2 linked regions of the Homo sapiens genome follow. Each later gene encodes a partner of the first gene's protein in a complex. Each region holds a gene or a part of one and is shown on either strand. Other genes may lie near its edges. A codon is read from its position in the direction of its gene.

Evidence for each region.
Region 2: the proteins of EDNRA (region 1) and EDN1 are in contact, whole or in part, in a cryo-EM structure (PDB 8HCQ), measured with the Homo sapiens proteins. Residues at the interface, in NP_001948.1 of Homo sapiens: Tyr68, Gln72, Thr73, Lys74, Tyr129, Asp133, Ile136, Asn137, Lys140, Leu141, Gly144, Arg145, Trp146, Gln165, Lys166, Val169, Glu220, Phe224, Val227, Phe229, Tyr231, His236, Lys237, Thr238, Cys239, Met240, Leu241, Asn242, Gln252 (codon at 5,136), Lys255 (codon at 5,127); in NP_001403492.1 of Homo sapiens: Cys53, Ser54, Leu58, Asp60, Lys61, Glu62, Cys63, Val64, Tyr65, Phe66, Cys67, His68, Leu69, Asp70, Ile71, Ile72, Trp73.

What each region holds. Positions count from the first base shown.
Region 1 is NC_000004.12:147,532,452-147,541,018, reverse strand, and holds part of EDNRA (endothelin-1 receptor isoform a precursor), read right to left. Parts: intron 8,514-8,567; coding exon 8,315-8,513; intron 5,143-8,314; coding exon 4,990-5,142; intron 1,367-4,989; exon of another isoform or gene 1,203-1,366; coding exon 1,069-1,202; intron 643-1,068; coding exon 534-642; intron 1-533. UniProt on the Homo sapiens protein: Receptor for endothelin-1. Mediates its action by association with G proteins that activate a phosphatidylinositol-calcium second messenger system. The rank order of binding affinities for ET-A is: ET1 > ET2 >> ET3.
Region 2 is NC_000006.12:12,292,335-12,298,235, reverse strand, and holds the end of EDN1 (endothelin-1 isoform 1 preproprotein), read right to left. Parts: intron 5,896-5,901; coding exon 5,727-5,895; intron 4,296-5,726; coding exon 4,140-4,295; intron 3,976-4,139; coding exon 3,832-3,975; intron 2,275-3,831; coding exon 2,169-2,274; 3' UTR 1,042-2,168; downstream 1-1,041. UniProt on the Homo sapiens protein: Endothelins are endothelium-derived vasoconstrictor peptides. Probable ligand for G-protein coupled receptors EDNRA and EDNRB which activates PTK2B, BCAR1, BCAR3 and, GTPases RAP1 and RHOA cascade in glomerular mesangial cells.

The DNA of each region.
Region 1 (8,567 bases):
TCGGCTCACTGCAAGCTCCACCTCTTGGGTTCACGCCATTCTCCGAGTAGCTGGGACTGCAGGTGCCCGCCACCATGCCTGGCTAATTTTTGTATTTTTAGTAGAGACAGGGTTTCACCATGTTGGCCAGGATGGTCTCGATCAGTGAGCGCTTTCTTAACAATAGAGCTTATATTTTGTCAAGACTTTGGTTCAAGTCTAAGACAAAGTAAGGTATGAATAGGTCTTATGTACTCTCTGTGGCCTGGAGCATACATTGAAACATTTCTCTCTAAAGGAGGGTTCTAAACTGGCATGTGATTTAGTCCTTTTGATTTTAACCTCTTTGTATGTGGTTGTCTAAATAGGAACTGCTTTTCTGTTATGCCGACAATCTGACTCTCTTTCTGGGTAATAAAACATGATTTTCACTTCACTGCTAAAAAGTAGTATAGCTGATCAAAGTAATATTACAACTGGAATTGGCTGTGTCTGTTGACTGTTTAATATACTCATTTTGTTGTCTTTAAAAAATACTTGAAAAATCATCTTACCTGGAAACAATTTTTAAATTTCTTGCTCACAAAATACAGAGCTATGGGGTTTATACATGAATTCATGGTTGCCAAGTTAATACCGATGTAATCCATGAGCAGTAAGAAACTAGAGCAAAAGAAAATGGTGTAGAATAATTAGAATATATTGTTTTAAAATCTGCTCACTAGCATTTCTTCCTAGAATAAGCATTTTTCTTGCCCAGAAGCCATTTCGTATGGGTGGCAGTTAGAATTTTGTAAAAAGTGCTTGTTTAAACGGCAGTTTCAGTTTTGCAGGACAGTTACAGATACATCACTAGTTGGTTAGCTCAAACCCTTATGCACAGCCTCAGGAGGGGAGGGGCAAGATAACAGATGTGGCTTGCACACATTTTGGGATCAGTTATAGGCTATGTCAGCTAAAGAAAAAAATCAACTTTGCAGTTTTAATTTTCAGGGCTAACGGGCATGTAGAGTAGCTGGTTTTGTAAAAGTATTATAAATATGAAAATCTGAGAAACTCCAATTTTCTAGCGAGTACACAGGATCATACCTAAGTAATTCACATCGGTTCTTGTCCATCTCGTTATACACAGTTTTCTTCAATATACGGCTTAAATGAAGAGGGAACCAGCAAAGAGCAAAAATTACAACCAAGCAGAAAACTGTTTTTGCCACTTCTCGACGCTAAAGGAAAGTGAGAAAAAAATAGGACAACAAATTTAGTGTTTTTATACTAGATGCAAGAACTACAGTACCAAGAAGTAGCAGACACCAGAGAAAGAATAATTCAAAGAAGAGCCAGGAGAACAGCCTGGCTTACACTGCCTCTACCTCTTCAAGATTCTAAGGTCAGTGTTCTAACGAAGGAATTGCTAATGATGCTTCTGGGCAGCTTCCAGGAAGGATGGGGGCCTCAGGTTGGTTATTAGGGCCAGGACGGAGGTTATATGCCAGGAGAGAGGTGGAAACTGGCTGGAGGTGAGCCAGCTGAGTCTGCAGCTGTGTGTGTGTAGGTGGCTGAGTCTGCCTGTGTGTGTGTGTAGTGGGGTGGAGTGTGACTGCATGGGGGAAAGGGTTAGCTAATGACTCTTAATAACAGGTAACTAATTAGCATTAATGATGGCATGGAAGGCAAGGAGACTGAACATCACATGATATTGCATGGACAAATCAACAAAGACCTGGAGAAAACAAAATAGGAGTGGGGAGTAGAAAAGGAAAAGTCATAGCACTATGTTTTTTCCTTTTCCTGATCTTGAACATAGCTATTATTGGGATTTTTTGCTCTTTAAATTCTTTTCTTAATGACATGTAGTTTCTTAATGACATATAAAAATATTATATGTTGTTTGCAAGCAGAAGGATGAGGGTAAAGGATTATCAGCAGTGATGACTAGAAAATCTGAAACATGCTGACCTTGGACGGACTTCATGGAAGGTTTGCATGCCTTTCAGTCTGCTCAGGATCAGAAAATCTATAAATTAGGAATTATCTGCAACCATTCATTGGTGTGCATTATTTGAGTATTATATTGCATGCATTTAGAAGCCTGACTAGGAACACAAAATGCAACTTGTCTGTAACTGGGATCAGTTAATGTCAAAATAAAACTGATTAAAAACAGGGTCTGGAAGGGTAATGCTGGCTCAACCTGAAACATATAACATTAAGTCCGGGAAGCCTACAATAAACTCACATGATTGGCTGAGCCATTCAAAATATTCTGGGGCAGTTTTCATAACTCGCTACTCTAGCTAAAGGAACTGGGAGTTCTTTAACCTCTCATAGTTATTGGGCTAGCTGGGATATGGCTCCGGAGTAATGACTGAGGGAAGAAATAAAATATTCAAATCTTCAGGAATGGGGGCTCTTTTTAAAAGGGTCATTTTGTGTGTCCAGAAAGACAGTGTGCCCAGAAAAATAGAAAAGCAGTGTATTAGGGGAGAGGTTACCTTTCCTGAGTGCATACTCAAAGAGGATAACGCTTTTAAAAGCAGTATTAGTACACTGCCATGATAGTCTGATATTTGCTTAACCAATATCCATTCTCCTGTCTTCCTTACCATCACTCTGGTCTTGATTTGTTAAGGCAGCTGGGGAACCTGGCCTAATTATCTACATGGCCACTTGGCAGGGTTTTGACCCGTTAGATGAAATAGAAACCATTGCATGGGTTTCCGGAAGAGCTACTGAGAAGTATAGGGACACTCTTTTGATGCACACCCATGACGGGTTGTTTTCTGTTCTTCCCCTCTTGCTGCTTGGAAATCAGATATAAAAGTAGAGCTGCTGCTACAGTCTCCTGAGACTGAAGCAAAGATCAGCAAAACAGTAGATACCTGGCCTCTAACTTGGCTTGACCACTAAATCTTGATGTCTGAACTTTTTGCTATGGGAGAAAGATAAACTCCTTCTTGGTCAACTAACAGTTATTTTGGGTTTTGTGTTCCCAGCATCCGAACACAACCCCTACTTGATAAAACTGTCATCATTATGATGAGGAGAAATTAGAGACAACCAAGCAAGAAGCAAAACTATGAGCCCCACAGAGTATTAGTCAAGATGGCAAGGTTTTGTGCTCTATGCTGTTTCTCCCGCAGTCCCATCTGCAGGACTTTCAGCCACACTTGCTCTTCTGTACTTAGGATTTGCTACAGATTTGAGTGGCACCAAAAGGAACGTTAACTGCATGAGGACAAAATCTTGGGTTCTAATCTCCATTTGGTTGAGCAAACCTCTAAATCACCTGTATAATAAAGAATATATATCCTACTGATCTCAGAGGGTGCTTGGAGGAATCAAATAAGAAAAAGACATGGAAATGGAAATGCACTTTAAAAACTTAAAAAATGCTGTGTAAACATGAAGCAGCATATGACAATTATTTCTTTCCACAATTAAATAATTAATATTATTCCAAAATTAAATAATTAACTATTTAATTATTTCCACAGCAAATACCACTCATAGCTTAAACAGGCTCAATCATGGTGCGAATGCAAAAATCCATATTTTAAAACACTGTTTTTCACAAACCCATACTAACTACCTCCATTCCAAGAATGAGAGGAAATAATTGTAAACATATTAAGCAATTGGAGTATTTGAAACTTTCATGCCTGAACAAAGTCATACTAAGGTTTCTCAATGTAATCTTCTTGCTAAATGTCAATGAAAGATAATAGCTACCATTTGTATGGCATGTTAGATTTTATAAAGTACATGCATACACATTCATCCTTTTGATCCTCATAATACTATTGATTCATATATTATGCCCAATTTACAGATGAAAAGCTGAAGCTCAGAAAAATCAGTATAGTAGTTGAAGAGTTGCTGATGAGGAACTATGCTTGCACATGGTAATTATATAGGACAGATTTACAGACTCCATCAACAACTCACATTAACTTTTGGTGTAGTTGGCCACCATTATATACTTTTCTGTTGCAACAGGGAACTTACCTGAAGTCCTAGGTTTCCTCTTAGAATTAATGTAAATTAACATTTGCTTAATACCTACTAGGAGCTGGGTACTATTAGGCACCTTATATGTCTCAGGTAATCCCCATGATGTATTATTACATACATATTATGAGAAACTAGAAGTTCAGAGAGATTAAGCAATTTGCCCAAGGTCAGAGAGCCAAGTATGAGTCTAGTTTTGCCCTTGAAAGCCCACAGCTTTATCTGTTCTAATTTCACCCAGGAGGGACCAACATTAGCCTCCTATTGACATGTTCAAATTCCTTCTAGAACTTTGGGTCCTCCAACACTTTACCTCTTCTAATGTACATGATCCCATTTCCTAGCATAAGTCTCACATTAGACATTGCTCTAGAGAGGTTCATCTCCTTTTTCCCATTCCCCAAATGCATGGTTCCTATTCCACGTTCTAACTAGACTCCTGTTCTTCCACCTGAAATGCTCTCTGTCAACTTCTTCCCCATCAAATCCCACTTATCCTCCAAGGTCTGGTTCAATCCCCCTCATCCATGAACAGCTTCCCCATGACTCTATCTCATACCCTTCCTGGCTTTCCATAGCACAGGCTACTTTTACCACACCTGTGGTTCTATATTCCAGTTGTTTTGCATGCATATTTTATTTCTACAACAAGACTGTAAATCTGCATGGGGAGAAAGTTACATGCTTTTTTGTGTCCTGGTACAGTTTCAAGCCCAATTGAATGCACGAACTCACATACACACATGCTCAGTACACTCTTGGCAAAATAGAGGGATAGTTCTTCTCTATTTGGGCCCAGCCTTCAGGACCACTTGTTTTACAAGCAGGTTTCCCATTTTACAAAAGAAATTTCTAACACTATTACTATAAAGAAAACAGTTACAGGATAGTATTTTTATTTTAGGAAATCAGGCTAATTCTACTAAAGATGGTATTTGCAGGCCTGCTGCTGTCAAGGACTAACCAGTCCTGGCCAGATTTTCATGATGTTATGGGATTTACCTGCTTAAGATGTTCACTGAGGGCAATTCTCAAGCTGCCATTCCTTCTGTTCAACATCTCACAAGTCATGAGGGTGTAGAAGATCGCAGTGCACACCAAGGGCATACAGAAATAGAACCCGAAGAGCCACCAGTCCTTTACATCTTGGTAGAACTTCAAAGTGAAAAAAAAAAAAAGAGAAAAGGAGGAGCAGAGTCATGTCAATTAACCATGCTGTGCCTCTGGTAGCTTTAAGGTCTTTAAACTTGCAGATACATCTGTAAAATCATGCTCTCTGGTTGCAGTGATGGGTTTGGGAGTGGGGCTCAAAACTCAATTCAGTTGGAAGCTTCAGAAATTATCCTGGCTTTAAACAGCACATAAAGAAACTGCACTTACAAAAATTATCTTGACAAGGATACTTGATACTTTTCATAGATTGAAGGTTTCAACTACACAACGGAAGAGCCCTAATCAATAAAAATAATGTCCTTCTAAAGCTCATAAAACATGATTTTGAGACAAAAGAATATACATGTTTATCTTTATTTCTGGATGAACCTCAAAATTTTGTTAGCGCCTGCTTTACTTTTGACTATTGTGGTGAAAGTGTATTTAACCTGAAACGGTGAAGGTTACGAATGGCTTATCTGTGTAGCTTTGGTTAATAGGGGTTAACCCTCTGCCTGGTATGCCTGCTATGTGACCTTAAAGCCAGCCGCTTTGAACTTCAATAGCTATACTCTTCTCCCTCCTTTAATACTTACCACCTGGAAACTATTGAGGCAGCATATCTCAACTGAAGCATATCTGGTATTATCTAACTGGGCAGGATTTATAAATACCGAGATTATTCGGTTTTACTTCTGCTTAAAGAAGAAAACTTAATACCCTATAAAAATGGAAAATGAAAAATGATATCTAAATTCTTCTTCCCACAAAATTAATCACCAACTTGGGACGAAATGCTTTTTCTTTCCTTATAGTGCTTCTTCAGATTGTTAATTTACTAAGGACAATGCAGTTCCCACAGTAAAAAATAATCATGTTGCTCTGTAAAAAATGGGACAGTTTCTGAATATAGAAAGAGGCTAAGAAGGCTGCATTTATAACATGGCTATTAAAATAATCTAAAAATGGTTCCTAAAGACAAAAAATTTGGGGGAGGAGTTCTTGACTATTTTTATGCCACAGACCCTTTTGGAAGTCTGGTAAAGACTATAATCCCTTCTGAGAATAATACTTTTACATGCATAAAATAAAATACATAAGATTGCAATGGAAACCAATTACATTAAAGCACAGCTATCAAAATATTAGAAATTAAATTTAGATATAGTAATATTGTGTTTATTCACAAATAACAAACCTAGTGATGGTTCTAATAACTACCGAACTGTTGAAGTGTTGAAGTTCTGAAGAGCATAAATAATATTTTGAGATTATACAAGTGTTATATCGTATGAAAATGTCTGCTATTTTTATTACTGAAAAAGTCATGATACTGGTAAACACTATGGTGATTTGTTGGGTACATTCATAATAGAAGGAAATAATAAATTCAGTTAGAAGTTAGTGAAAATAAACATGTTGTTTCTTTTCCAACCAAGTTCACAGATCCCTGAATTCTATCCTCAGGTTAAGTGCAAACTCCCAAAGGAGTTGGTTTATTCTAAACTGCTTACACAAACATTTCCCTGTTCCCAACACACTGTAGAAAGATTTCAGTCCTGAACTTAAAAAAAGTCAGAAGCACTCTCTCTCTCTTTTTTGAAGTGCAACACGAACACTCCTTTGAGCACCCATTCTCCCTTCTTTTGTATCCTCTTTTTCCGGGTGCATTTGCTGGCTGGGTATAAATGATGCAGAAACAGCTGCAGAGGGTCTAGAGGCTGACCCTTGAGAGGGCTGAATGGAGTCCCCTGCCCCCTCCATGGCAAAGGCCCACAGAGAAATGGGTAATGCATCTCTTTGGAACTGATGTCATCAACATGGGTAGAGAGGGGCCTACCATCAGTCTAGGGTAAAGTTGAAGAGCAAGAATGGAAAAAATAGGGGAAATAAATTTAGAAAAAGAGAACAGGACTTCAGACTTGGAATGAACTCTAAAAAATTATCTGTTCAACTCATACCCTTTACTGCAACCGTCTAGCCCACCCATGCCTGAAGGGTAGCTACCCTTTACTTGAACACGTCTAGATAGGAGACAGTCTTTATGAAACAGCCCATTTCATTTTGTCTGGCTGTAAGGATTAGTAAGCTCCTTCTTATAGTGAACCTCTTTTCTCTAATGTTTGCATCTGGAATATCTAGATTGCTTATTCACACAGCCCAAATTCTGACAATCTCCTACTGTCTACTTTGTTTTTCACTTTGAAGACTAACCCAGTAAGAAACTTCAATTTTAAGTTGTTAGTTTGGCAGTTTTCATGAGCACTTTTAATTTTAAAACAAGAATTTCCAAGCAGGATAACTGGTCAACTGTAAAACCACGAATTCTGTGAATTTTCCAAGTTGGGAAAGCATACCTTGAGATGTCTGTAAATAATTACATGTGGAATGTGAGCTACATGAAACTTACATCAAAGCACTAAATTATACTGATTTAAGAGAAATAGTTATCCTTTTGGTTTTCCTCCTCAGTCCACATGTAACTAGTTTTGCAAAGAAAAGATGCATTTTAAATAGGTTTCCCAAAACAGTCATGTGATTAAGCTTTTCAGAAAAACATTAATATGGTCAGGTGTACTAAAAAAACCAACAACTGAATTTGTTAAACCAAAATATTATTTTAAGAAGTTCTACAATTTTATATTATTTGTATATTAGACATAGAAACCGTACTAATATAAGTACATGTAAGTACTACTCTCTACTTTGAATTAGTAAATCCATCTTTAAAGAATGTGAGAAATGTGCTTCTCCCCAAGTGACATAAGATAAACATCAGCACGTCTTCCAGATGGAAATTGTTGTGTTGTATTCATTATTATAAAAACAAATAGCATATGTATATATATATATACACACACACACACACACACATACACACACACACACACACATCTAGTCCCTCTTAGTAAATTTGCTTTGGTATTCTTAGTGGTTTGGTGCAGAATAACAGATATGTCTACCATTGTGGTATAATACAAGAGTGAAAGCCAGCATAACTGTTCTATTCAAGAATCTAGACACAGGTTTAACATCTACTTTTCATGCAACTGAGGAATATTTGACAGAAGAAACCACACTTGACATTGTGGCGATGTCATCAAGTCTCAAGATGGTGAAGTCTAACGGAGGACCTCCTCCCTTCCCCAGTTAATTCCTTTTAAACGTTTAGTACCTCCATGAATTTTGATGTGGCATTGAGCATACAGGTTTTATGCTGTTCACCCCTATATTCAAAGGGTACCATGACGAAGCCAATCGCTTCAGGAATGGCCAGGATAAAGGACAGGATCCAGATGGAGACAATTTCAATGGCAGTTACCAAAGGAATCCCAATTCCCTGAACACGACTCCAGGAGGCAACTGCTCTGTACCTGAAAAAAAGGGTAATGGAACCAAGTTGTTAGGAAATTTTAAATGTATTTCAA
Region 2 (5,901 bases), on another chromosome or scaffold:
AACATGGGCAAAACTTCAAAATTTTCTTCAGAGTCACGCACTGAGAAACAGTTTATGGATAAAGTAAGCTTTATAAACAATTCCCCAAAGACATTGGACTGTGCCTTAAAGAGAAAAATGAGGATCAATGAGGACGGAGACTCTGCACAGGACATTGATTACGCATGCCTGAAGACTGTTATTTGAAATCCTTCTGATGTGTCACTGTTAGGACGACAGTGATCACTACATGCTAATATTTGTTAAATGCCAGGAATTCCTTCAGACACTATTAGAGAAGGGCAAGGAAGATTCTCGAGGGCTAATCAAGCTCTTAGAGAATTCAGTTAGTAGTGACCATTTGCAATACTGCAATTGCAATACTGTGCTCTCCAGTGAGCTGACAAGGCCAGCCAAGGCAAAGTGGAGAGGAAGTGGTGCTTTGTGGCAGAGGACCTAGAATCAGTACCTGGTGTCTCTACCTCCATGGGCACACGGCCAGTCCTAGGCTATCACGAAGAAGCAATGGTACTCAATGTTCCTTAAGAAACAACATCCTTAATGTGAGAAAATAAAAAGCCATTGGAAACCTCTACTTGCTCTGAGCAGGCCATTTTCTAAAAGCAACTTTGGTATATAACTTTGTATAATTAGGTATGTTTTGGGGGGTTGTCTTGCCATTACTTCCTTCAGTCCATTAATATGGATAAAGCATCTCTCACCACACCATCAGCTTAAACTGTTGAATCCTGCCTAATAGCCTGAGCCAAGTTAATGGATGAAGTCCCTGGAGAATTTTTCAGGTGAAGGAGAAGCAGGAGGCTGCTACCCAAGAGAAGACAGAGGTGTTAAAGCTGCTTTTTTGTTTTGTGTTTTTACCTCAATGCAGTATAAAATCAACATTTAAGATACAGATAAAATTCTTTATATAATTAGCTTAGACCGTAATATCCTTCTAATTGTCACTTTTCTATGAAACCGTCTTTAACCATTTATTTGCCTTTATGGTACTTAATCACGTTGGCCCACTCCTTACAAATTTCAGTAATGATTCCAAATCAGTACAGTAAGGAAAAAAATATTTATTTTCTAAAGTCATTACCTTGACAGGCAAAACAAAGCATGTTCTCAATTTCATTTAGAAATACATATTTTAAAAATACATAGACCAATATGGCCTGCCCAAACAGATATTTAACATGGTAAATATAAGGAATAAATTGTTTGAATATAAATATCTATAAAAAAATAAGTACATCAAAATTCAATCCAACCTCTTTCATTAGCCGGTTATATAAAGGAAAATAATTTTACTGCTTTAAAGCGTAACAAACACTTACTTTTCAATATATTTCATAAACAACCCTATACCATTGTGTCTCCAAAAATCAAGGACAGGGAATCTCCTGATTTAATGATCTTTTTTTTCTTATGGATCAGAGCTAGTAGATTACCATGAAAATATTATATCTACTGCTGACACATTAGACCAGACTTCTACGAGGCTAGGATTTAGTATGGGGGATGGAGGAAGGGGCAGCAGGGGTGGGAAGAGTTTGGGGAGGCAATAATTAAATGTGGGAAATACTTCTGCCAGAGTGCAATATAGGTGAGGTAGACTCATATTCATGAAACATATCCTGATTTATGGTAGTAACAGTTTCATTCAGTTTTGCATTTTACAAATTTAAACAAAAGTCTTTCTTTTTTTTTTCTTTACTTGCATGTTTGTCTTTTGAGTGTGTTTTCAATTTGTGCATTCCTTAGAAAATCTTTGTGTGGACTTTGGAGTTTCTCCCTGAAATGTGCCAGGCGCCTGAGTCAGACACAAACACTCCCTTAGGACCTTCGTCAGAAACTCCACCCCTGTGTGGAATCTCCTTCCTCTCTCTCTCTCCGGAGGATGCCACCCGAATTCGAATGTGACTGTGTGTTTCTGCTGAGAGGTCCATTGTCATCCCCAGATGAAAGAAGAGACCAAAGCAGTTACCACTGATGGAAGCCAGTGAAGATGGTTGGGGGAACTCCTTAACCTTTCTTGGAATGTTTTGAACGAGGACGCTGGTCCTTTGCCAGTCAGGAACCAGCAGAGGATGCTCCTGCTCTGATCCCAGCCAGGGTGGAGAGTGCAGAGTCGGCCACAGGGCTCTCCGTGGAGGCTATGGCTTCAGACAGGCCCCGAAGGTCTGTCACCAATGTGCTCGGTTGTGGGTCACATAACGCTCTCTGGAGGGCTTGCCTTTCAGCTTGGGATCATGAAAAGATGATTTGACGCTGTTTCTCATGGTCTCCGACCTAATAAAGCAAGATAAGAGAAAACAAATGTTATTTTAAAAAAATCACCCTTTGGCAAAAGAAACATGTAAAATTAGAATCTGGCACAAACAAAACCTGAATCTGGTTGTGAACTTTCACCACCCGCCGCAACTCTTTGATAAAACCTCAAGTGATATCTATTACCATTGTAAAAATAAAGCCTGCCCCTATGCTTAGAATGGGAGCGAGGGGTCATATGGTCAAGTCTAAGGGGAAGTGGGCAGTAAATACAGGTTTTAAATAAACTAGAGTTGTTCTGGTTTCTTCCGTAGCCCCATCCCAACCTTCATCACTATGTGACCCTGCCTTGAGGAACTCAGCATAGGTTTTGAATAGTTATGGCCATCTTAATAAATTGACGGTGACTTAGTTGAAAAGAGAGAAAAAGAAAAGAAGCATACAGTAGGCCCAGAGCAAATACTTTATGGCAATTATTTTTAAAAAGATTTTTTTTTTTTGCAGGCCTAATGTTTTACAGGAGAAATACAGAGGGAAGAACTGTAATGTTGATTTAATAGTTGGCATAATAAAAACCCATAAAAAATTCCAGGTTAGTTCAGAAACTGATCTCGTGGGGAGCATTACTGGCCTGCGACCATAAATATGGATACTCTCATAAGCAGGTGTGAAGAAACCGATAGCTGAGGCTGCCCCACAAATCAGTAGTAAATAACTCAGAAGTAGTTCATGACTGCCTGGCCTGAGCTCAGAACACTTTAATCATAGAACTTCTTGCCACTGGATTTCTAAGAGAAGTTTCCATAGACCATGATAGAAAAATGCAGAACATGTGGTAGATCAGAGAGTAGGTTTCCTCCTTTGAGCTTGTGAATTCCAAAAAGTTTAGGATTTGGAAGGGTTATCACCAAAGAGCAGCTCAGAGCAACTCTATGATGTTGCCTAATCCAGATCCCTTCTCTGTCCCAGCACATGACTGACCAGGAAAAGAGAGAGCTTTTTGGAATGACATTGGCTCTGCACCAAACACATTTCCCTATTTAAAAAAAAAAAAAAAAAAAAGACCATAAACCTGAAAAACAGCATGTTCTAAATTCTACCAACCCTATCTAATGACTTTATTTTTCCTTTGGCCATCTGAATAACTGCAACTTATTGAAGAATTTGATTATCCATGACACTTTGATTCTTTTTCTAAATGTCCGCTCCCCAAAATGATTTTCGATTTCTCAGGGAAAGTGGTAAATACATTGACTCAGAGAGGCAAAGGCTGTATATAACCCAATGACAAAGGCATCTCTGGATATATTTTGGTTGGGAAATCTACCTGTAGATGAAATGGTATGTGCTAAAAGTACAGAGGACATCGGTTTGCATTCCAGAGCTTCATGGAAATATTTAAGAGGGATTCTTTTGCTCCTTTTAATCTATAGGATGCATAGATCTCCTCTGCTACTGTTTTCTAAGTCTTTCACCTGCCCGGGTAAGAAGGGCTGGAGGAACAGGCTGCTGGCATCACTGACTGGGGCTAGTTGTTCTTGTGAACCTCTTACCTAATTTTTCTTCCTTCCCTCTTACCTGGTTTGTCTTAGGTGTTCCTCTGAACTTCTTCTGATTTTTCTTCCTCTCACTAACTGCTGATAAATACACTTTTTCCCAAGCTTGGAACAGTCTTTTCCTTTCTTATGATTATTCCAGTCTTTCTCCATAATGTCTTCAGCCCTGTTAAAATACACAAGGAAAAACATTTCAGCAATGTTATATTCAGCTTTACCCTGACTTTCAATGTCTCTGTTAGTCTCTCTAAAACAGGAAGGCAGTACCATGATAGGAAGGAGTTCAGGAGGCTGTTAAACTGATTGAAAAGCAAAGGTGTTTCTGCTCACCTGAGTTCTTTTCCTGCTTGGCAAAAATTCCAGCACTTCTTGTCTTTTTGGCTAGCACATTGGCATCTATTTTCACGGTCTGTTGCCTTTGTGGGAAGTAAATTCTCCAAGGCTCTCTTGGACCTAGGGCTTCCAAGTCCATACGGAACAACGTGCCTATTATCCAAAGAGAGAAAGAAACTATATTAGTGTAATTAATAGTCTTTAAAATGACACATGGACACACCTATTCCACTGGGCACACAAGGAGCTCATCACATAGCACTTGGGAGCATCATTTCAGAGGGTAAAGTGTAACAACAGCCAGGAACACCTGTGCATCAATGGCCCTGACTGTATGTATCCAGGCAGGAGAAAACAAGTTTTTCTAATTCAGTGGAATTCCATTTCAACTCTTCACAAAGTTCAGTTTCTTCTTGACACAAGCAACATTGCTTTTTTGTCAAAAATTAGGACATCTCTGCTTGGCATCTGCTTTATATTTTCTTCCTTTTCTAATGGTCTATTTAGTTAACTATTTGTGGGTACACAGTGGGAAGAGGTTTCAATGCAAAACCATGACTCACAGGATTTTTAAAACTTATTTTCAACTCAAACCACGGAGGATACTGCTAAAAGTGCCACCGTCACCCCACCGACCCCAGTGGTTGGGGGAGGAGGAGGCACATGTTCACACATTTCTCCTGCCAGTCGGTGGTACCATATGGTTGTGGAAGGACTCATAGCCAGAGGGCTCTCCAATAATTTCCAATGTGTCCATTTTCATTCTCATCTAAGAAATAAAGTCCTCCCTTTGGAAGTATCACCTTAGTAATTATTAGGCTCCTTGTGGTTTTTGGTGTGGTTTGATATTGTTTGGATTTTGGTCCTCCTTTGTCATAACGGTACATTGTATGCATAGTAAATGTGTGCTTGTTTATGACTGCTTCCGACAGATGATGAACTAGTGTCCAGGGCAGAAGGAGGAAATCTGCTTTTCTTCTCTGTAGGTGAAAGAGAAGCCTATGGACAGTATTTCTATTTCAGTTCTGAAATGGGCATTTCTAAAGGGAAAATATAGCAGCAAAGGAAATCCGGGCTCCAGTTCTAGCTCTGCTACAAACTCACTCCTGCACAAATGGCTTCAACACTTTGAGCCTAGGTTTTTCTGTAAGTAAAATTAAGTGATTCTAACCCTCTATATCATCACTTCTGCCTCTCAGTCTCCACCCTCCCATGAGAAGCACAGGTTGCACTAACCCACATCTGACCTCGGCAATTATTCCCGAAACCCCATCAGATGCCACTGTGAGAGTGTCCCCCTGAGGCCCTCTCACTGAAAGTTCCTCATTTGAAACGTGCAGTGGCCTCCTGCTTGTCCCATCATGAGTAGCCTGAGCTACGGGGCCTCAGAAGACCCTCCCCTTGGTTGCTAAGAACGAAGCTGTCGTTATTTTCAGGAATAGAGGGAAACTGTCCCCACTGAGGCACTTGGATGGTGTTAGAAGGACTACCTTCAGAGTCCCTAGAAAAGAAACTCTAAAACTGGGCTCCAGTGGAGCCAGCGCTAATGAATGACTAGGGTTACAATGCCCTCTAGAGACTTACTCGGGAGTGTTGACCCAAATGATGTCCAGGTGGCAGAAGTAGACACACTCTTTATCCATCAGGGACGAGCAGGAGCAGCGCTTGGACCGGCGGAGCCGCCAGGGTGGACTGGGAGTGGGTTTCTCCCCGCCGTTCTCACCCACCGCGCTGAGCTCAGCGCCTAAGACTGCTGGGG